Linked DNA regions of Homo sapiens. The protein of the gene in region 3 purifies or fractionates together with the protein of the main gene of each other region. This does not show direct contact. Each region holds a gene or a part of one and is shown on either strand. Other genes may lie near its edges. The genes, in order: GAB2, PEX7, SST and PCDHGA9.

Region 1 (6,202 bases), on a different chromosome or scaffold from region 3:
TCTCTGTCTGATGGCCATCACCACTGTCTCATGTCCTTGTCCTTTTTCTGATTGTGGCTATCTTAAGTTCAGGGAGAAGGTCTGATTGATTCTTGTGTCCTTAGTGCTTAACCCCAGAAACTGGAGACAGCAGCCATTAATAAATACTCCTTGAGTTGATCTAAACTAATGCTAGGAGGAGAGGTGCAGCTCTTGAAGAAATAACTTCTTCCAGGATGGGACTTAGAGAATGGCTAGGCCATTGGTCTGGTGAACTATGCATGCTCATGGGAGCTGAAAGGGGAATGGGGGCAGAGGACAGTGGTAGCTGTCCCCATCAAACATGGCAGGAAGTCATTGTTTGGGAGGAAGAAGTTCTGTTCGCCCCAGGGTAGAATGAAACGTCTGGTCTGTCCTGTTGCTTCTGAAACTCTTGAAAATTTAGTCAAGAACAGTCAACATAAAAACATTCAGATCCCCCACCCTTAGTTTAAGAGAAGGAACCTTGGGTGATGCCCTACACCCCGTCCCTGCTAATCTGATGGCCTTTCAAACCTGGGGAGGAGAGTCCAAGATGGCTCCTGGAATGCTAGGGAGCAACAGAGGGCGGATGAGCTGAGGAAACACTGGGCCGGCACCAGGCCAGACTCGTTCCTACCCTGCGATCTGACATACGCCACAGCCCATGGGCACAAGCTGTCAGCCATGCCTGATGTGGTCCTCTAGGCATCATTCTGCCCTGCTTTCTCCTTGTCCTGCCTGACCCACTGTCCCATCCTAGGAACGGTCCTCATGTCACACCACCATGCACACCACTCTTGCACGTGTCCCTCCTTCACTTTCTGCTCCACCCTGCACCCCCAAGGATTGCGTTGGGCACCCCCCAACTCCCAGGCCCTTTGGATGTATTTCCCCACTTGCTACATGGCCTTCACCACTGCTTCACATCTGTCTGCTACCTCTGTGCCCGACTTCCACTGCACTGCTCACTGCAAAGAAACTCACTTCCCGACCCCACTGCAGAGTCCCCTGCACTGCCCTGTGCCTCTGCCCAGCCTGTGCCTGTCCCAGGGTTCCCCTCAGTCCCTGCATCACCCCCATCCACACCACACTCCCTCCCATATTCCCCACCCCTTTACCATGTGTTCCTGCCCCATGTGCTTGGTCGCCCAGCTTGGTCCAAGCCTTCCCCTGTATGCTGCTTTCAAGGTGGGGCTGGCGGGGGCCTCTGAGGGGACTGGGGAAGAGGACTAGCCCTTGGGCCTAGAGTGGCCTGTAGCTCCAGAGTTCTGGGGACCCAGACCCCACAGTGTCCTTGTCATCTCCACCACCCGAGCTCCAAGCCCTGCTCCTTGCTGCTCTAGGTTGGCCATCAGTTTTCCCTTCCTTTTGTCCTTCATCTTCTGCCTCTGCACCCCACAGCAGCTGTCCTGCCATGGCCTCAGCCTCAAAGTGGGTTCCCTGCAGATGTCAGCTTTCCCTCTTCATCTGGGCATCTAAGTCCTTTACCCCTCAAGACCACTGCTGAGCCTCCGTCTCCACCATCTCCTCTTTTAGTGGCCTTGCTTCTCTCCTGCCAAGAAAAACAGGAATGAAAAAGTCCATTATCCACTTTGGTTTGCTGGTCCTTGACTCCCTGGGTTGGTGAGACTTGTCTTCTGGGACTGAAGGAGAGGTAGCCCAGTGGCCGGAGGGAAGATAGCTGAGGGCTGTGACTGAACGTGAGGTGTGGAATCTGGCTCAGAGCCCCAGCCCTTCCCTCCAAACATCTGGTAGAGAGTCAGGTCTAAAGGACAGGAAGAGGCTGAAGGATGCTTTTTGGAAGTAGCTCCTAACTAAGGTGGGTGGAGGCATGGCCATTACTGATAAAAATCACAGCTGGGCCCCGAGTGGGCAGAGGAGGTGCCTTGATCAGGCCCTCACCTCCCAGGGGAAGGGTTCAGGGTCCCTGATGTCAAGTGCTTTGAAGGCTGAGACTGGCAGAGTAGAGAGGAGGTGGATGGGAGGAAGAACGGGAGAGGGGAGAGGGGAGATGGGAAGGGCCAGCTCTGGAGATGCTGCCTCCTGGGCTCTGCGGTGGCCCTCTCATCACAGCTTGGCACCCTTGGAAGGCTCTGAGGACTGCCGCACGTCTGTCCACTCCTGCATGGTGTTCTGCAGGGCCTGGGTCTTCTCCTTGTCCACCTGAACGTAGTCCACCTTCTCATCAGAGGTGACGGATGAAGTAGATGGCTGAGGGGACAGAGTGGGAAAGAGGGAGTAGCTGTGAGTTACCAGTTAGGTGGGGAGGAAGAAGGTGGGCACGGGATCTTCCTGAGCTGTCTGAAGGGGAGAAGAGCATGGCCTCTGCCTGCCACTGACCAGCCTCAGGAGCCTGGCTTCTCTTTCTGAATGTGGGCTTTAAAGCTCAGACTCCAAACTCATCATCCCTCCTGCAGGATGTAGCAGCACCTGCCAGCCCTTCTTACTTCCCGGCTTCTGGGAGGACCCAGGCCCTTCCTTGGCCCTGGTGGATGGGTCCAGGCCTTCATCTCTGCCTCCACCCATCTCTGTCAGGTCGCTCATCCAGGGGAAGGAATTTGCTAGGTGCAAACAAACATCAGCCACAGGACTTTACGTGCTGTGCTCACTGCCACCCTGTGAAGGGGAACCATGCTGAGGCACAGCTCTGCACCCTTCTGTCTAGACTGCTTAGCTATAAGGATGCCTCCTGGGGAGGCTTTCCCAGGCCTGGAAGTCCCTTCTGAAGGCTGATGTATCGACGGCAGGGCTCTGGACCCACTCGAGAGCCCAGGACCAGGAGGCAGTATCCTCATTCCTGGATCTGTTGCTGATTCACTTTGTAACCTTAGGACAATCAGATCTCTGTGCACTCATTTGCCCATCTCTACAACACGGGGGATGGGCTGACTGATGAGGTTCTCTGACTGAGGGTACTGTGCTCTGAGAGCAGGAATAGGAGTCTTTAGACCTAGATGAAAGCTCTATGACTAAAGATGCATCATAAAAGCTGGGTACTGGAGCAGGAGGGAGGCTGAGTGCTGCTGTTCAGTGTTGAAGGCACCCTGGCCTCCATGATCTCTGCCTCCGGGACCCTGAGAGCTCTTACTGCCCCCCCAACTCTACTCCAGGCACCTTGCGGTGGGGGCTTGGGGAGCTCGGCTGGAAGTCCAGGGCCAGATAATCAACGCTGCCGGTGCTCTTCTTAGGGGCAGGACTGTTCGTGCCACTGGGAACGGGAGATGCAGACACTGGGTTTTGCTGTCACGAGGAGGAAAAAACTGTGAGTGACTGCAGAAAACAGACTAACCCACCACCCAGAAAAACACCTCTGGGAGTAAGAACACTGTTTCCCTGAGCCCTACTCTGACACATGCACCATGCTAAGGACTTTTCATGTTTTCATTTTAATCCTCATGACAATCCTGTAAGGTAGGTATGATTACTGTTGATACTGTTTAAAGCAAAGATGAAACTGTGGTTCACTTTACTTTCAGAGAAGTGACTTTGCCTGTGGCTGCACAGCTGTTGAGTGATGGGAATCAGGTCTGTTTTCTGACTTCCAAACCTGTGCTAACCCCTGTACCACACTGCCTCCTTTCTAGCACATCAGGCCAAGTCTCATCAACAGTGGCTCTCCTGAGACATCCAGCCTTTGCTTGCTGGCGCTTAAGAAAGGAGCACATTTCCTTTATGCACTGGAAAGTTTTCTTCTGTCGCACCAAATCAGCCCCTGTGAAACTCCCACCTGTGGCCTAGAGTGGGGTAGTCACCCCAAAGCAGCTTGCTCCCCCGCCTAGCTCCTCCAAGATCTGAAGAGGGTGGCTTCATCTCCAGGCTGCACAAGCCCGCATTTCTTCAGATGACACGCTCTAGGATCCTGTCCATCCAGGCTCGTGCTCTAGCAGAGCACCACCTCCTCTAGAACTTTCTGGAAGTCTTATTCTAATGAGAAGGTGATAGTCCTGTGTTCTGTTTGTTGGCTGCTTTACTGGTTGGTTAATTCATTCTTTCACTATCTATGCAGTGACTACCAGGTGCTGGGCAGTTACGCCCTTAATGGAAATCTCAGGGAAGAAATATCCTCCTCTGCCTGTGTTGATAGCTCTATTATGGCCTCACCAAAGTGAGTTATGTGCACGTATGCCTCTCACCACTGAGGAGATACCTCCACCACTGAGGAGATACCTCCAGCACTGCCTATCCAAGGGCACAGATCATGCCACCCATGTCACTGTCATGAGAGGCAGGCCCCTGCTCTTGAAGACCATGACTTCGTTGGGACAGGTCTCATGTCTTCCTTACATCTGATGACAACTCCTACTGCTTGATAAACAGGTGCTCAAGAAGGGTTTGTAGCAGGAGACTAAATCATGAATAATACAAGGAGTCCCTGGGCTGAGGTGAGTTAGCTAAGCTGGGAAGTGGGGAACTGAGGGGTGGGTCCCAGGGGACTTGAAAGGCGTCATTCCAGCGAAGCCCGAAGGACTCACCATAGGGACATAGTTCTCTTCGCTGTCTCCTGAGTCTGTGCTGGTGATGCTCTGGGTGGAGATGGGGCGGCAGTACTGGGAGGAGCTGGAGTTGAAGGTGTGGCTGTTGTGGGAAGGAAGAGTTAACACTGGGGAAGCTGCATGGCTGCTGCCATGTTTCTAGCCTCCAGCTGGGCCCTGACCCTCACACACCCAGACCTCAGCCATTAGAGCTGCACACTCCATCAGATTAAGATCTGATATAGGGCAGGTATAATTATTCTCTTTTACAGCTGAGGAAACCAAGCCACAAGACATCGAGACATGATCAGCTAATGATAGCGTTAGCATCAGAATCCAGCTGTCCCGGCCCACAGGCCAGCTACCACATCACTCATTTTCCCTAATGGCCCGACTCCAAGCTCCCACCCCCACACATACGCACTTACTTGGCCCTAGACCAAGACTTGGTGATAGGTGACTTGAAGGGGAGTTCATCGATGACGGTGTTGTTCCTCAGGTCAAGTGGTGTTGGCTTTGCTGGAGCAGGAAAAGAAAGTCTGGTAATCAGCCAGTAATGATAATGCTACACATACACACCTTATATATAACACATGAGCATGTTTATAAAGGCCTGCAAAGTCATTCCAGTTTCACACAGGGAAACTGACGCTCAGCGAGGTTGTATAATCTTTGCCCATATTGATGAGCCTTGAAGTCATGTCTTCAGATTCCAAATTATATATTCTTTCTGCTGTATCTATGGTAATTATATTTTCAGAATCAAAAGTGGGGACACAGGGTTTGACAACAGATTTTTCTCCCTCAATTTATGACTTCATTTAAAAATAAAAGACTATATATAAAATATATTTATATATTAATATATTAATATTTATAAAAATATATACTATTTATATATTAACACACATATATGTATTTTTTAAGACGGGGTCTCACTCTGTTGCTCAGGCTGGAGTGCAGCGGCGCAATCTCAGCTCACTGCAACCTCTGCCTCCTGAGTTCAAGTGATTCTCCTGCCTCAGCCTCCCTAGTAGCTGGGACTATAGGCGCCTGCCACCACGCTTAGCTAATTTTTATATTTTTAGTAGAGACGGGGTTTCACTATTTTGGCCAGGCTGGTCTCGAACTTCTGACCTCAGGTGATCCACTCGCCTCAGCCTCCCAAAGTGTTGGGGTTACAGGCGTACAGGCGTGAGCCATGGCGCCCAGCCAAGAGACCATATTTGAAGTATAGATGGTCACCGTGACTACTCCCTGCTGCTCCTGGCCAGGTCGGTGCAAGCCACAGTGGAGGAAGGTAGATGCCATAAGGGCTTGAGGGCTTCAGTTCCAAATGCTAAGATTTGAATTCCCTGTTGGCCAGACCCACAGGGGGCTATCTCTGCCTAGCTATCCTACTCCTCCCTTTGAATCCTTGCCACTGATCCAATGCCAGGAGAGTGAGATTGTAGCAGACGAGGACCTTGCCTGGTCTACATGCAGGGGGCACAAAGCTGACTTTACTGAACGCCTGCTATGTACCAAAGTACTATCCTAGATGCTCTCCTTTGCAGCAAACCTGGGAGGTAGGAATTACCATCTGCATTTCACAGATAAGAAAACTGAGACTCAGATTTTACATGATTTGCCCCAAGTCACACCTCTCAAGTCCAGGATCCACATGACCCCTAAGCAAATGGAAAGAGTCCCTAGCCACTGTCCAGAGATGGGACAGGGGAAAGAATGGA
Region 2 (5,123 bases), on a different chromosome or scaffold from region 3:
TAGTAAACATATTTTTGAATAGGGAAAACATAGGGCTACGTTTTTGATAAAAGGTCCATATTCCCTTTTTAGGATATACCTCAGGGTATTCCAACTGATTCCCATTGATTGAGTATATTCCAATTGGTATATTTCAATTGACTGAGGTTTCCTATAAGAATGTCCCCCACCTTCACTTCACCCAACAGCTACATAATTCCCTACTATCTGATATAAATGTCGAAAAGATACGTTCCAGACTGTGAACAAGATGCTGTGCTCAATATTGTGGGACTGGAGAGGAAGATAAAGTAAAGCTCTTGCCTTCAAAAAATGGCTCATTCAAGACTGAGTGTGGAAGGTGCACTAACAGAGACTCTTAGGGGGACTATATGATTCCAGCTGGGACAGTGTCAGACAACTTCACAATGCCATGGCATTCCCACTGGACCTCTGTAGGAGGCAGACATAAAAGACAAGGACATTCACATCTACAGAGCCATAGGAAAACATGAAGGGAAGAAAGTCCAGGGTGTTCAGGAACTATGCATTAAAAACTTAGTGAATATAGCAATGTCTCCGGGTATAAAATTAATATATGAAAACCACTGTGTTTCTATATACTCGTTTTTTAATAGAAATGGATGAGGCAATTTTTAAAATTTATGTGGAAATGCCAGGACTTAGCCAAAAGAATCTTGAAATGAAACAAAGCTGCACTACTTAACACTAGCTGACTTCCAGACTCAGCACGAAACTACTGTAATCAAGACTGTGCAGGATTAGGATAAAGACAAGTAGATCAAAGGAAGAGAACAGAGTTCAGAAATAGGCCCCACACTTGGACAAATGGCTTTCAACAAAGGTACCAAAACAATTAAAGAGCAAAAGGAAAAAATAGTCTTTTCAATAAATGGTGGCAGAACAACTGAATATCCATAGGGAAAAAAGTGAATCCTGACCCCAACTTTGCACATAAAAATGAATTTGAGATGCACCACAGACCTAAATATAAAAGCAAACTGTATAACACTTTCAGAAAAAAAAAAAGGAAAATATATTCTCAATACAGAGGTAAGTAAAGATTTCTTAGGGATACAAAAAGTAATAATCAAAAATTTGGTAAGTTACACTCAATCAAAAATAAAACTTTTGCTCATCAAAAGACACTGTTAAGAAAATGAACAGGCAAGACACAGTTATATAAAATATTCATAAAATATACACCTGACAACTTGTATCAAGAATACATAAAGAACCAATACAACTCAATAATAAAAGGCAATCTAATGAAAAATGATGGGCAAAAGTAAGCACATAAAAAAGTGCTCAACATCATTAGGGATTAGGGAAATGCAAATAAAAATGACAATGAGATACCACCATATATTCACATTATGGCTAAAATTAAAGATTGACAACACCAAATGTCAGCAGGGATGTGGAACAGCTGTGATCACATACATTGCTGGTAGGGAAGGTATATGGTACCACCATTTTGGAAAACAATTTGGCCGTTTCTTACCAAGTTAAACACATACCTATCTTTTGACCCAGTAATTCCACTCCCAGATATTTGTCCAAGAAAAATGAAAACATATGTTTGCAAAACAATGTAGACACGAATGTTCATAGCAACTTCATTCACGATAGCAAAAAATCGAAAACAAGGCTGGGCAAAGTGGTTCATACCTGTAATCCCAGCATTTTAGGAGGCTGAGGCAGATGGATCACCTCAGGTCAGGAGTTTGAGACCAGCCTGGGCACCATGGTGAAACCCCACCTCTACCTAAAATACATAAAATGAGCCAGGTGTGGTGGTGTGCACCTGTAATCCCAGCTACTAGGGAGGCTGAGGTGGGAGAATCGCTTCAACCTGGGAGGCAGAGGTTGCAGTGAGCCGAGATCATGCCACTGCACTCCAGCCTAGGCAACAGAGTGAGACTCTGTCTAAAAAAAAAGGAAAACAACCAAAATACCCACTAACAAAAGAATCGGTAACAAATTGTAGTAAATTCATACAACAGCATGTGCTCAGCAAAACAAAGGGAGGAATTGCTAACAGGCTCAGTACCACGGGTGAAGCTCACAGGTAAGAGGCCAGAAACAAGTGAGGACATACAGAAGAGTTCCTTATAGAATTCTAAGACAGGCAAAACTCATCTAAGGTAAACAAACAAACAAACAAAAAGTCAGAACAATGTTACTCTTCTCACCTGGAGGGAAGGGTGGGGATAGGGGAGATTGGAAAGGGGTAAAAAGGAAACTGGGGGCTTTCCCAGTTTCCAATAACTGGGATGATGTGAATTTCACAGACGTATCTATTTGTCAAAAATGTATATCTAAGATTTGTAAATTTCAATATATGTGAATTATACCTAAAAATAGTAAAAATAATGTTAGCGATAACTAAACGATGTGTGAGAGTACAGGAATAAATAAAATAAGAATGTTGATAGTTGTTCAAGCTAAGTAATGAAGTTCGTTATCTGATTCTGTTACTTTGTATGTTTTCAAAATTTTCCACAATTTAAAAAAAAGAAGAAAAGAAACAAGGTAGGCAGTAAAATGAAAGATGAAGTAGCAAGAGAGTGCTTTTGACCAAAAGTATTTGCACTCCATTTCCCAGCCTTTCATGCTTATTACAAAGGCTGAAAATTACACAAGAGAAACCTCGTTTTGACTAATGTAATTTCTTGGCTATCACTAATTTTGAATAGTGATAGCCAATCATTCACTACCAATATTCTGAGATCAGAATCCAAGCTACAGAGAGCATTATAGACTTTTTAGTCAAACTTTTAAATTTAAAAACCTCACTCTTCAAGATCTGGTTGTTCCCATTTCATTTCTCATTGCACCGGGCTCACACCTCAAATCCAAGCATGCTGCTTATGCCTCTTCGCTCTTGTTCCTTTACTGATCGCTTCCCTTTAATAACTCCTCTTCTCCCTCCCTTTCTGTCTGCTCCTCTGTCCCCTTTGCCTTGCTCTGCCAGAGATGTCTCTTTTTTAAAAAATCAGTTTAGGTATCATCTCCTCTATGAAGTCATTCATTGTACCCATAATACTTGATTGTACTTATTTTCCCAACTGAAGACAAAGAGTTGTCTTCAGCTCTTTGAGGGCATGGACCATGTCTTATTAGAACATAACTCAATGAATATTGGCTCAACAAATTAATTTCATAGATTACAATTTCAGAGGTTAACTCTGTCCTCATGTTCACAATAGAGTAGCAGAGCTACAGCCAGAACCTAAACCTGTTGAATGTATCCACTAAAACAGTGCCTCATAGAAAAGGCAAACTGAAAACCATTATTTGCCTAATCTTGCAGTTTTCAGTTTTTATACCATAGGACACAAAGATCATTATGTTAAATTACCCCTGTCTCATCTATGCCTATTTTTTTCAAGTGCTGGGCCTTCCCACATGTTAAGCATCCGCTACTGGAGAGAAGAGAATCAGAGAAATAAGACTTAGGTTTCTAGTGCAAGGTATCTATAAATTATGTTTCTGAAACCTTATTCGGCACTCTCCAATCCAGCTTCTTATTTATTCAGGACTTATAATAACTACCAAATGTCAAGGCCACTGATTCAGCAAATGTTCATAAATCTATACTTAATTGGATTAAGATAGATCTAAAACTGCAATGATATAGAATTATGAATAGATTAATTCAAATTGATGAAAATAGTATTCCTCTATTTGTTAATTAAGCCCTATCTGGTTCTACAAATTTAAGCAAGCTAACAATAAAGAAAATAATAATAAGGTAAGAAAAAAGCACTTTACTAACTAACAAAGAGGCTCTAGATTCTCCAAGGTTGCTATGTAGGAACTTCCTGGTAAGGAAAAACTATTGTGCCATGTGGTCCCCAGGGGACCTCTTATTAATTATCACTGCCACTGCAATGGCTTCTGGTAGCACTGCAAGATTTTGTTGAGTAGAGAGAGCCCCTCACATAATAAAAAGCATCCAATTAGGTGTGAGGTCAGAGATGTGGGTAAAAGCAACAAGTTTTATGGGATTTGAAGGATATATATTTTGTTTGTTTGTTTTTAATTTCAGGAATATTTAGAGAAGTTTCACAGGGAGCTTGCCTTTGTGTCCTAAGAACTGTTTGTCAAATATTCCTCAGAATTACAAAGCTATCTAAAAGATAATTTATGTATACACCTATTCATCCATTTATTCAACAAAGACTTATTAAGAACCTCCTCTGTGTCAGAAGTATGTACAGGTTACGACAATAAACACAAGGGTCCTGGTCTCTGGCTCCACAGATCTTGATTGTAATGGAGAGACAGGTAAGCAAAGAGACACCTATACTGTAGCGTAATATGTAAAATGATAGAGGAATTATGGGGTCCCATAAAAGTAGGCAAGGGGCCATTATAATCGAATGTGAGGGAAGTGCCTGCTTTCAGGTGGAAGTAGTATCTAAGCTGAGGCTTAAAGGAGGAACCCGCTAGACAGCATTTGTTGCTGTTTTTGGGTCAGGGGCACAGTGGAAAAAAGGAAAATGTTCTAGGCAGTGGGATACATCCGAGTAAGTGAAGAACTGAAAGTTTTAGTTTTAAGGCAATTTAAAAGTTATAATTGCATTATAACTCCTCTGACGAAACTCAATCTTTCGAGAGGCAGTTTTTTTCTGAATCCCAACTAGGGTTTTTTGAAGGCTGGGGTATCTCTTGTTTGACTCTCTTCCCTTACAGTATGAGTGTGCATGTGGACACTCAAGGGCAGGGGCCTCCAGGCTCTACTGCTTCCGCCCAAGGATACACAAGTGGAAAATGTATTCCTTTACTCACAAGCCCCTGCTGTGGTACATTTCATCCCTATGCCCTTCTGAATTTCCTTTAAGCTAAGACCAACATGCTAATCTTTTCATCAAAGTCAGAATTAAAATTACTGACATTACAGAAAAAAAAATGGTTTGTCAAAATGTTATATTTCTTAATGTAAAATTTGAAGAGAGAACCAATCTTATTATTTTAAAAGATGCTATCTACTAGGGTAGTAAAAAAAACTAAACTAATAGGGTAAGATGCCATATAAGTTCTATTTTTAATTATTTCATTTTCACTTTAATACAGCAAAATAGGTATTTCTGTTATAAGAATAAGCACACTAATCA
Region 3 (6,019 bases):
AAACTAAATAGGAAGTAAAAAGTAAGACCCTCTGTATATGTAAAATAAAACAAAGCAAAACAAAGCTATACTCTACATATTAATTAAAACAGCCCAAGATCAGCAATCCTTGAGCACCCTTTTCAATGTCAAAGCACAAAGTGGCAGTCCTCAGTCACAGCTGAAAGAGATGTGAGTGCCTTTTCTAATACAACCCTCTGCTTACAGAAATGGGCAAACTGAGGCTGAAAGTTGATTATGTTCAGATGTTTTACTCAATTTAAGCTTTAAATTAAAAATATGTATATATGTGAGCATATGACTACATAATTCTTGCCAATTATTTTCTTTTTTTTTCTTTTTCTTTTTTTTTTTTTTTTTTTTTTTGAGAAGGAGTCTCACTCTGTCACCCAGGCTAGAGTGCAGGGGTGCAATCTCTGCTCACTGCAAGCTCCGCCTCCCGGGTTCATACCATTCTCCTGCCTCAGCCTCCCCAGTAGCTGGGACTACAGGCACCCGCCACCACGCCAGGCTAATTTTTTTGTATTTTTTTTAGTAGAGACGGGGTTTCACCCTGTTAGCCAGGATGGTCTCGATCTCTTGACCTCGTGATGCACCCACCTTAGCTTCCCAAGCCAATTATTTTCATACTACCATTGAGAACTGACAACAAAGATGGTACTAAAAACTCGAAATCCCCTGACACTCATACACAGCCCAGAAAATCATTAAGTTGTGTTCTCATCTGTGCTGTAATTATAATATGATGCTGTTACTCCACTGAATTTTTTGGTAGCCAGTGTACATAAGGCCTTTGGCACAGACAGATCCCATAAGTGGACATGCATTAATCCCCACACCTAAATGTCTTGCAAATAAAAGGTATACCAGAACATCAAAGGATGTTCTGTTTTCACAGAGATTAGTAAAGTGGCTTGGCTTTTTTTCTTTTGTTTGATCAGCTGTTAGAAATTAACTTCCTCTAAGCCAACCACATTCAAATGTGTATTATCTAACACAAATATTTTCTATAAAATATTAAGCTCCTCTTAAATGTTTATATGATACTATCAGTTAGTTTATACTACAAGGATTTATATTGAGCATACATATTTATGTTTGGTTTTTATTCCAGTAGCTATGCAGAAATGCAGTTGATAGCTAAAACACACATCCCCCAAAGGATATCTCTTTAGGTCTCAGGAAGTTAAATTAGCAATGTTTACATTCTGTCTTGAGTGATCCCATTTAGCATGTTGTTATAAGACTATCACCTTTACTGAGTGTTTAAGAATAATTTTTGTGTTTTTATTTGACTCCCATATTGATAGAATTAAGAGAAGACTTGAGATATCTCCTTCAGCTATTTCATAATTATGATTTTGAGCTCCAATACCTGCAATATAGATAGCACTCAGTGAGGTAAGCCAATATGCATTTCTTGCAACCTATAGTACTTCCAGAAGGAATCTTATAATAAAAGTGATATTTCTCCCTGAGAAAAAATATCTTAAAAGCTTGCTTTTAAAACAGTCATTTAGCACTGTTCAATTAGAGAGGATTGTCAAAGAAGACACAAAAGCAATGGTATTTCTCTAGATAAATGTTTACAAACTAGAAACAAATTCAGAACCTCATTTTAGCTATTTAAGTCAGATTTTTTCTCAACCACCAAATGACTTTGTTCCTTCCATCTTTTCATATGTTATGTATTTTACATATCAACCTGGTAGATAGTTGGATTTTTCAGCCTAACTATTCACACACACTCATTTCAATAGTCCAACATATAATTTAGGTGTACTTAATATGTAATTAATGTTTATGTCAGCCTCTCCCAGTAATTATCATTGAATTAAAGTTTGAATGCATAGAGTTATGTGAAATTATTTCTGTTTAAAATGACTCATGTTATAATAGTTATCATTTAAAATGTAAACTTTATTGCCACCGAGAATTTTAAATAGATGTTTGTGAACATTGGAGTACCTATCTCAAATAACTTTACTGAAACCGCCACTCAAGCTTATTATGTATTATTGAACAAAAAGATTTACTCAATAGAAACCAAATTCACATTTTTCATAATTTCACCATAATTTTATTTTGTATTTACAGTTTTCAGTTTCTAATGCAAGGGTCTCGCTGAAGACTTGGAGGATTAGGGAAGAGAGATGGGGTGTGGGGGCGAGGGATCAGAGGTCTGATATGGACAATACTAGTTAAGAAAGCTAACAGGATGTGAAAGTCTTCCAGAAGAAATTCTTGCAGCCAGCTTTGCGTTCTCGGGGTGCCATAGCCGGGTTTGAGTTAGCAGATCTCTGCAGCTCAAGCCTCATTTCATCCTGCTCAGCAGCCTGGGACAGATCTTCAGGTTCCAGGGCATCATTCTCCGTCTGGTTGGGTTCAGACAGCAGCTCTGCCAAGAAGTACTTGGCCAGTTCCTGTATAGGGCAGAAGGGATAGAAAAAGAGAGAAAGAGAAGTGGGGAGGACAATGGAAAAAATTTGAAAAGCCTAAATTAAAGAACAGATTTGGTCACACACAAAATCCAGTTTTTACAGCTGCGCATTTTTTGTCACATTTAAAATCAATCAAGGATATAAAAATAAGGATAGTTGCTATAATTACCAAGTTACACAAAAAGGCTTTAAGAGCTCAAATGTTTCTGCAACCTTTCTGTCCCTGTAGACTTAACACACACACACACACACACACACGCACAAACACACACACACACACACACACACACATAAAGACCGTTCTGGTAAGATAAAGTGTGTGCCAACAGTTTAATTCAATTTTCACATCACGAGCTACAAAGTAGAATTGTTTTACCATTTTTACCAAGTAAACTGTAGGGGAACGAGACTTCTCACAATCTCAAACATACGGCGTTCGGTCTTTAGATTGCCCCTTTGCCCTAGTCCCGACGTTTGGAAGTGAGGTACGCTAAGAGGTAGCAGCTTCAGAGGTCTGCGTTTCAGCACCTGGGTCAGCGCTTCCCAGGGTCAGCACCAGGGATAGACGCCATTGTCGCTTCGTGCCCAGACAACTACCCAGATTTTGTAATTTTCTTGAATGCCAAGTAAGAACTCACCTGAACTGTGACCGACTGCGCTTATCATGGGGGAAAAAAAGAGTTAGAAGGGGATTCTAGCCTTTGATAGTTTTCTCAAGAGCTTCGGGAGCTGAGGGACCCAGAAAAGCACCAAAACTCTTTAGAAGGACTGAGCATCCCTTACGTCCAAACCAATGGGGCAGGAGCAAGGCTTAGGGAGGGCTGGAGAATCCGGGAGACGTCGAGGGAGTCTCCTTACCTGCTTCCCCGCGGCAGCAGCCAGGGACTTCTGCAGAAACTGACGGAGTCTGGGGTCCGAGGGAGCGCCGGTGACACAGCCCAGGGCCAGGACGATGGACAGCGCAGCCAGCGCGCACTGGAGGCGGCAGGACAGCATCTCGGCGCCGCGAAAGCCGAGCTGGAGAGTGGCTGGTCAAACTCTAGGCGCGGATCAGCAGGCAGCAGCGATGGCTCCGAACCTCGCTCCTAAAGCGGCTTGTGTGCTCTCAACCGTCTCCCTCTGTTTTAAACTCTCTCTCTGACGTCAGGCTAGGAGGCGCCCCCAGATCTCACCAGCCCTTTTACGCACCATTAGCCTCGCAAAATCAATCACAGAAGACAGGGGAGGTGACAAGATCTAAAGTGGCTTACTTAAAAAAAAAAAAATACTGCACACGCACAGGCACACACAATTCCACATGCCCCACGATTTATACAATCTTTTATTTTCACTCAGTGCTATGAGCATACACATTCCACAATTTCACTCCCACACATGCACACTCAATTACACACAAACAGAGGCTCAAACACTCAGCTCTTAAAGAGCAAATACACTATCACCCTTAAATGCACACAAATGTACCCAGACAACTCCATCTGTCATCATACTCTAACATTTTAGGAAGGCCCAACAAGCAACAGGGCATGTGTATGGTAGGTGGAGATCAGAATCATTCCTCTAATAACAGATTTGAGAATGAAATATGGACAGTAGAAGGACTGAGCCCTCTTTATTTCCTCCATTATCTCATAAAAAGCCTTGAAGATGTAACGGGGCTCTAAAAGAACTTCACTTTTCTCTACAATGGGGGAGAAGGTACCTCTGGCTCACCCTCCCTCCCTCTTTCTCAGCAACTGAGACTTCTGATCTACCTGCCTTTCTATTGTGACCATATATATGTATGAGTGTGTGTATATGTACGGGAGGGAAAGAGAGAGAGAGAGATTGAAATGGACTTCATTTTGGTGCTGAGAAATTTAGAGCTGGAAGGCAATCTAAGAAATTATTCAATAAACCTCAGAATTTGAATCAGTAAGGCAGAGTAATGGTCAGTAAATTGTTCTCCTTCACATACTGCACACTTTGAGCAAAACCAGACCTCCACATTCCAAAGCCAGTGTTCCTTCTACTGAGCTCTGAGTTTTCTAACAGATTCCTGGCCGGTAAGCATAGTTTTATGTCAGGAAGCCCCAGTTTAGACATATAAGGTCTAGGAACTCCCAGAACATATGTGACCACTATTGTATATCTATATGTGGAAAGGATCAAAAGATTCTTGGTTAAATTCAGCTCTGCCTGATCTCCTAGAAACAAAGAAAGTTTAAGAAAACCTGTCCTTGAATTCTGATTGAACTCTGGTTAAATGTTTACTGTTCAGGCCAGAGTTCTGACTGCTTTTATCTAAATAGTTCCTTACTGAGGAAGGACCAGCTAATTTCCTAGCATGGACGAGATGATCCCTACAGGATCTTTAAGAGCTGTTATCTTATGAGCTTCAAAAAAGCCAATATTAGCTAAAAAGATATGCTGCATCTCTGGAAACCATGCGAAGCTCATATTAGGTATTAAAATATTCTCAGTACTTAGACCCGAACCACAGTGTTGAGAGGCAGAAGGGTTTGGGAAGTATCCTGAATGGCTTGAATAATTGTCACTATTTCTTTTTGTGCTTGTAATCCAAGGCAAAGCGGAAATGCACAGCAAGAAGTGTTAAAGTTTCCAGGTCTTGACAAGGCCAGCCAAGACTAAGCACAAAGTGGGGCATTAAAAAGTCATTCACATGTGTTGGAGTAGTCTAAGAGATCAATGAATCTGGAGCTGTGGAACCCAGTCCTAGGAAATACATGTTATATTCTCTAAATCTTGCAACTCTCTCTGGCCTCTAAGGACTCAGAGTTTAGTTCTATCACTGTGACTGTCTCTAGGTACCTCCAAATGATCTCATATCTCCTGTACCCAGGATGTGGTCTTTGGCATACCCACTGAGTAGGAAACGAGGATTTTTCCAAAGCAGGAGCCAGCCGAAGAACAAATAGCAGCTCCCCATCTTCCCCTGTGCTCTAGGATCTCTTCTGTCTCCTTCCCCAGACGCTTGCTCCCCTCCTTCCACATCCTTGTGCTCTCCCTCTACACTTTCTCCTCCTTCTTATTCCTCCTTTTCCTTAACCTTTCTGCAAATTTATGTTTCAGAATTTTCCTCACTCAATCCTTCTTTTGTCTCCTCTCTTGACTCTGTATCCTCATTCCTTTGTTTTTCTTGCTCTTCTCAATCATTTTCTGACTTTGGTTTGGGTCAGCCCGGCTCTTTCCCTGCCTTCTCACCCTGCTTAGCCAGTGCCTATCCCAGTCTCTGCCTCAAGACATCTCTCCCTCTCTTTTCTCTCCTCTTTTCTTTCTTCTTCCCTCCTCAACTGCTTCTCACCAAAAACAAACAAACAAAAAACCTCATGATGTCTATCTGTTTAAGTATCTACTTATGAATAGTAAACAGTTGCTTCCCTCATACCCTGCTGAAGAGCTGAAGCTGTAAATGAGATGACTTAAGGGTTTTGCTTTTGTTGTTTTATAACTCCTGGAGAGTTATGAGTCTGAGAACCACTTATCAGAGAAGCCAGGACAAAAAGGGACATAAATTCTCCCTTAAGCCCTCCATGGCCAGTTATAGCTTAAAGGTTGGTTTAGCATGAAGCACTTCA
Region 4 (6,202 bases), on a different chromosome or scaffold from region 3:
TGAGATTAAGGCCAAGGCCACCACCAGGTAAAACTGCAGTTCAGCCTGGGGGTCAGAGAGTACAGGGCGGTCGCTGAGGTCTGGCAGTATCTCTTGCAAGTTGTCTGCGAAGACCAGATGAAGCGTGGCGGTGGCAGAGAGTGGCGGCTGTCCACCGTCACGCACAGCGACCAGCAGGCGCTGGCGGGCTGCGTCCCTGTCGCCTAAGGCTCGAGCCGTGCGCACCTCCCCAGTGCGCAGCCCCAGGCTGAAGAGTCCGGGCTCACTGGCCTGCAGCACGTGGTAGGACAGCCAGGCGTTGTGTCCCGAGTCGGCGTCCACCGCTACCACCTTAGTCACTAGGTAGCCGGGCTCTGCAGAGCGAGGTACCATATCGAAGAACGCGGAGCCGTCAGGACCCAGAGCTGGGTACAGCACCCGCGGTGCGTTGTCATTGCGGTCTCCCACCAACACGCGCAGGCTCACGTTGGCGCTGAGCGTGGGCGAGCCGTGGTCGCGGGCCTGCAGCGTGAGCGCGAAGGCGCGCAGCTGCTCGTGATCAAAGGCGCGCTGCGCGAACACCACCCCGCTCTGCGCGCTCACTGACACGTATGACGACACCGCCAGGGGCTCTAGGTCACTCGCCACTATAGAGTAGGAGATGTGGCCATTGAGCCCCAAATCCGGGTCAGAGGCGCTCACTTGCGCAATGGAGGCTCCTGGCGGGTTGTTCTCGGCCACGTGGACCACGTAGGACGTCTGGTCGAAAACTGGGGCGTTGTCGTTGATGTCAGCGACATACAAGGTGATGCTTCTACTGGAAGAAAGAGGCGGCTTGCCCCTGTCAGTGGCTACGATGGTGACATTGTATTCTGGTGTCTGCTCTCGGTCCAGGGCTCCATCTGTCACCAGTTTGTAGTAGTTATTGGAAGAAGAATAAATCTTGAATGGAATGTCTGTTTCTATATTACACCTGACTTCTCCATTTCCTCCGAAATCCAGATCCCGTGTTTTGAAGAGGGCAACAACCATTCCTGGAGGTGAATTCTCCAAAATCTGATCAGAGAGAGAAGTGATGATTATTTCTGGGCTGTTGTCGTTTTCATCAAGGATTTCTATGATTACTTTACACTGGGTAGAGAGACCACCTCCGTCCTTCGCTTCCACTTCCATGGTGTACCTTTCTACATCTTCAAAATCAAATGACTGGTTATTCTTAATCATACCTGTTTTCTCATCCAATGAGAACATATGTTTTGTGCTCTGGGCAGTGCTTCGGAAGTAGTAGTTTATCTCAGCATTGACCCCCTCATCCTGGTCAGTGGCTGTCACTTGCAACACAGGGGACCCAGGGGGCAGATTTTCACTAAGACTAATTCTATATTCGTCTCTGCTGAAAACCGGGGGGTTATCATTGGTATCCTTGACAGAAATTTCTATGTGAGCGGTGGCACTTCTTGGTGGGTCCCCTCCGTCCAAGGCAGTCAATATCAAGCTATGAGATCTCTGTTCTTCCCGGTCTAGGAGTTTCTCCAGAGATAACTCTGGGTATTTGCCACCATCGGAATTAACTCTAACCATTAATGAAAAATAAGGATTAGAGTTTATCTTATAATCTTTAATTGAGTTTATGTTTATATCAGGATCCGTGGCAGGGTCAAGCGATAGTCGTGTACCAGCGGATGCAGATTCGAAAATTTCTAAATGTATTTCCTTTTTATCAAATTGAGGGGCGTGGTCATTAACATCCTCAATCACCACAATGACATGAAAAATATTTAAAGGATTTTCCACCACAGCTTCCAATTGCAACTCACATCTTCTTCTCTCTTTGCATATTTGCTCACGGTCTATTCGGTTCTTCACAAGTAAGTCCCCGCTCTCCGCGTCTACGCTGAAGTGCAGCTTCTCCGCGCTCACTCGCAGCTTGCGAGCCGACACATCCAGGACACTGAGCCCTAGATCCTTAGCGAGGTTCCCCACCACCGAGCCCTTGGCCAGCTCCTCCGGAATCGAGTAGCGGATCGGCTCACTCAGGGTGGGGTAGAACAAAGGCAGCAGCAAAGGAAATAGCACCTGCCGCGGGCCGGCCCGGCGCCTCTGCGCGCAGCTCCCTCCCATCGTTCGCTCGGGTTCTCGCTGGGTCCCCGCTTTTCCAGTTGGAGAAAGTGCACTCTACCGCGCTAAAAGAGCATTCGGCCCAGGACAGGAGGAGTCCCGGGTCTCGGAGCTGGCAATCCGCTGTGCTGGGAAAGGTCTGCGCAGCCGGGAGGCTCTGTGTGGGAGCTGGTTTTCTTCTTTCTGTTGTTGGCTGCGCAGGGAATCCCAGGCCAGAGGCTGACGGATCCCCGGCGTCAGCGCTTGCTCTGCACTGGCCGACAGCGGCGCCCAGAGGCTCCGTGCGGGACAGCAGCCCGGTTTTTCATTTTGAATTCGGTCTCCGAAATGTATATATTCTTCGAAAATGCAGGTGTACATCCCCCTCAAATTTTGCTCTCACCATAATATTATAGTAGATATTTCTATGCTTTGTGTTTTAAATAAATCTATTATGCACAATTTCAAACTTATACAACAGTAGGGAGTATATATAGTGAACCTTCACATAGCCATCACCCCACCTTCAACAATGATCACCACAAAGCCAATCTTTGTTTAATATATACTGCGCTCCCCCATTATTTTTAAGTAATACGAGATATAGAATGTCAACCAATGCTTCTTTTTAAGATGAGACATTAAGGTCAAGAATTTTATCTTTCAGCTTATGTTCTACAATCTGTTACCAATGCACAATAAGTTAAGTCCTACATAGCCTAAGAAAAACAGAAATAAAGATTTTCCATACTCCATTCAGTCATCTGTCTGGTGAGCCTCGTGTTCTGGTTTTAAGGGCAAGAGACATTTTTGTGGTATCGAATAGTAACTACCTACCATGACATACAAGCCTTCATGGATATCTGTTATGTTTTCCCCAAATTAACATACATTTCAATATTTATAAATACTAAGTATGAAGGCTACTCCTCAGAACAGAAATTGTAACAATTTTCTTGTTGCATGGTTAAAAATATGAGCCTGAAGTATGCTTTATTTTTTTTGCTACCCACTTAAGGGGGAAAACGTGTTTGAAATAATTAAAATGTCTGTATGTCATAAAGGATTCCCAGACACTTCAGCTTTTTTTTCTTAAAAATAAAGCAACTGAAACCCAAATAATTACAAACAAATAAAACAATTCTTCATTTCCACAGAAATGCCAGCAGTCATCAGTGTATCTATGGATCACATGTTTAGCATAGAATTTTGAGTCAACTTCAAAGCTTATTTTCAAATGTCTTGTGAAATGTTATTTACTATTTGAAACAACACTATGTTTAAAATAACATTAAATAATACATTATTCTCTTCCTTATAGCTAAAAACAGTAAAATAGTTTTAGAATCTTCCCAGCAGTTCCTGAGAATATTTTCTTAAATTATATCTGATATGCAAGTTCATTTCTAGACTCAAAAGTTGGAGAATTGAGCCAGAAATAATATATAAGTGAGAGAAATATTTTTAATTCCTTGTTTTGTCATTTCACAGTGTCCAGTCTTAGAAACTTCTCTTGAGCAAGCATATACTATAGAAAAGAAGAATGTCCTACTATTCTCCATAATTTAACATTAAAGCATTAGGAAATTAAGACCTTTGAAGATATGAGAATAAAAGATGTGACAACTTTCACCATTAAAGGGAAAAAATTGGTTTACTAGGGTTTGGAAGTGGATAACTGAAGTTTGAATCTTCGTCAGAAAATATCTGTAAACACAAACAGACTTTACACACTTGTGATCTGAAAAATATAACCTCAAAGAGGTGTTTTCCTGTCATAGAAATGGAAGAATAGAAGCAATAAATCTGGGCTTTCAGCTGTTTCTCTAAGAAGAATACATTTACCTTTTTATCAGTTTACCCTTACAAACATAGTATGACCTGAATAAATGATCGTAGGAGTAAGAATTTGCTGGGTGAGGTGGTTCACACCTCACCCAGTGCTTTGGGAAACTGAAGCAGGAAGATCGTTTGAGACCAGTCTGGGCAACATAGCTTGCTAGCCCTCCCACCTCAGTCCTAGCTACTGTGAAGGCTGAGGTGGGAGGATTGCATAAGCCCAGGAGATTGAGACTGCAGTAAGCTTTACCCACACCACTGCATTCCACCCTGGACAACAGAATGACACCCCCATCTCTTAAAAAAAAAAAAAAAGGAGTAAGAATTTTATGATATGAGTCCACTGCAACCAATGAAGCAACCCTACCCAAAAAGCCCACATCAATGCAGGCTGAGAGCTACCCCATGAAGTATGGTTTACGTTGACAGCAGGTTAATTATTATGAGAACATGAAAGTTATATCAGCAAATATAACTAATAAATGCCTCCTTTCAGTGTTGGAGCAACAATTAGGCCCAGTGAAAAGTGATGAGAAACACACTGATATCAACTTATACTACCTTAAGTACAGACAGTTAAAGAGAAAGCTAACTATAATAGAAAGTTAAGGGCCAGGCGCAGTGGCTCACGCCTGTAATCCCAGTGCTTTGGGAGGCTGAGGTGGGTGGATCACTTGAGGTTAGGAATTCAAGACCAGCCTGGCCAACATGGTGACACCCCGTCTCTACTAAAAACACACAAAAAATTAGCCGGGCGTGGTGGCACGTGCCTGTAGTCCCAGTTATTCTACTTGGGAGGCCTGTAGTCCCAGCTACTCTACTCTAGTCCCAGCTACTCTACTTGGGAGGCTGAGGCAGGAGAATCGCTTGAATTTGGGAGGCGGAGGTTGCAATGAGCCGAGATCACACCACTGCATTCCAGCCTGGGTAACAGAGTAAGACTCTGTCTCAAAAACAAAACAAAACAAAAAACAAAAAAAGAAAAGAAAGAAAGAAAAAAAATGAACTCACCGGAACCAAAGGGGTGTCTTCTATAGGAAACTTGGAATCAACAGAGACGCACAAAGGCTCATTTTTCTCACAGCTCTGCTGGCTGATGAGTGTGTCTGCATAGTTGGGCTGGGGGAAGATCAGGTGACTCTTCCTTGAGTCAGCGGTGAGGGAGAACTCCTGAGAATAGGTCTGTAGGAAAGCTCGAACCCCATCTACACCCACAAAGTGTGAGGTGGGCACACCAGCCAACCCATCACTGGTAGCCCGCAGCAGATGCGAGGAGTGCCAGTGCCTCAGCCTGAGGGCCAGCAGCGTGATAACGAAGGTGAGGAAGACACAGGAGACGACTGCCACAGCCACAACGAGGTAGAGGGTAAGGTCTGAGGCCTCCAGGTCTGCAGGGATCTGAAGACTGCCCAGGTCAGCCAGGATGTCTGGGATGCTGTCAGCTATGGCTACTGTGAGCGTGACAGTGGCCGAGAGAGGGGGCTGGCCATGGTCCTGTACAGCCACCACAAGGCTCTGTTTGAGCGCATCTCTATCTAGCAGGGCCCGAGCTGTGCGCACTTCACCTGTGTGCAGCCCCACCGAGAAGAGCCCTGGCTCACTGGCCTTGAATAGGCGGTAGGAGAGCCAAGCATTCTGGCCTGAGTCTCTGTCCACTGCCACCACCTTGGTCACCAGGTAGCCAGGCTCTGCAGAGCGGGGTGCCAGCTCCACACCAGTAGAACCATCAGTGGGGAGGGCAGGGTACAGGATTTCTGGGGCATTGTCATTCTGGTCCAAAACAAACAGTCTCAATGACACATTGCTGCTAAGTGGTGGGCTTCCACTGTCACTTGCCGTCACCTGCATTTGCAAATCTCTAAACTGCTCATAGTCAAAGGAGCACAGAGCATACAGCACACCAGTGTCTGAGTTAATAGAGACATAGGTGGAGAGAGGAGACCCTTGGATGGTATCCTCTGCCAAGGAGTAAATAACTCTAGAATTCTCATTGCTATCAGGGTCATAGGCAATCACGGAGAAGATGGAAGTACCTCTGGCGTTGTTTTCCGGGAGGTAGACTGAGTAGGAGGCTTGAGAGAAAGCAGGTGGATTATCATTGATGTCAGTCACTTGCAGGGTGATGTGAATTTCTGTGGACAGGGGCGGAGTTCCTCTGTCTGTTGCAGTCACCGTGATATTATATTCTGAGGCTTTTTCTCGGTCAAGAATTTGGGCCGTCAACAATCTGTAATAATCTTCTTCTGAATTTTCTAATGTAAAAGATAGATTCTCCTGGATAGAACAG

What was found.
Region 1: the proteins of SST (region 3) and GAB2 purify together in Homo sapiens (co-immunoprecipitation; one large-scale study listed by IntAct). This does not show direct contact.
Region 2: the proteins of SST (region 3) and PEX7 purify together in Homo sapiens (co-immunoprecipitation; one large-scale study listed by IntAct). This does not show direct contact.
Region 4: the proteins of SST (region 3) and PCDHGA9 purify together in Homo sapiens (co-immunoprecipitation; one large-scale study listed by IntAct). This does not show direct contact.

What each region holds. Positions count from the first base shown.
Region 1 is NC_000011.10:78,217,205-78,223,406, forward strand, and holds part of GAB2 (GRB2-associated-binding protein 2), read right to left. Parts: intron 5,324-6,202; exon of another isoform or gene 4,992-5,323; coding exon 4,901-4,991; exon of another isoform or gene 4,576-4,900; coding exon 4,473-4,575; exon of another isoform or gene 3,585-4,472; intron 3,241-3,584; coding exon 3,115-3,240; intron 2,212-3,114; coding exon 2,068-2,211; 3' UTR 1-2,067. UniProt on the Homo sapiens protein: Adapter protein which acts downstream of several membrane receptors including cytokine, antigen, hormone, cell matrix and growth factor receptors to regulate multiple signaling pathways.
Region 2 is NC_000006.12:136,908,233-136,913,355, reverse strand, and holds part of PEX7 (peroxisomal biogenesis factor 7), read right to left. Parts: intron 1-5,123. UniProt on the Homo sapiens protein: Receptor required for the peroxisomal import of proteins containing a C-terminal PTS2-type peroxisomal targeting signal. Specifically binds to cargo proteins containing a PTS2 peroxisomal targeting signal in the cytosol.
Region 3 is NC_000003.12:187,666,855-187,672,873, forward strand, and holds SST (somatostatin preproprotein), read right to left. Parts: upstream 3,541-6,019; 5' UTR 3,438-3,540; coding exon 3,300-3,437; intron 2,424-3,299; coding exon 2,211-2,423; 3' UTR 2,058-2,210; downstream 1-2,057.
Region 4 is NC_000005.10:141,404,101-141,410,302, reverse strand, and holds part of PCDHGA9 (protocadherin gamma-A9 isoform 1 precursor), read right to left. Parts: coding exon 4,927-6,202; coding exon of another isoform or gene 4,864-4,926; exon of another isoform or gene 4,804-4,863; intron 2,283-4,803; exon of another isoform or gene 2,101-2,282; coding exon of another isoform or gene 1-2,100. Other genes in the region: PCDHGB6 (protocadherin gamma-B6 isoform 1 precursor), read right to left, coding at 1-2,100. UniProt on the Homo sapiens protein: Potential calcium-dependent cell-adhesion protein. May be involved in the establishment and maintenance of specific neuronal connections in the brain.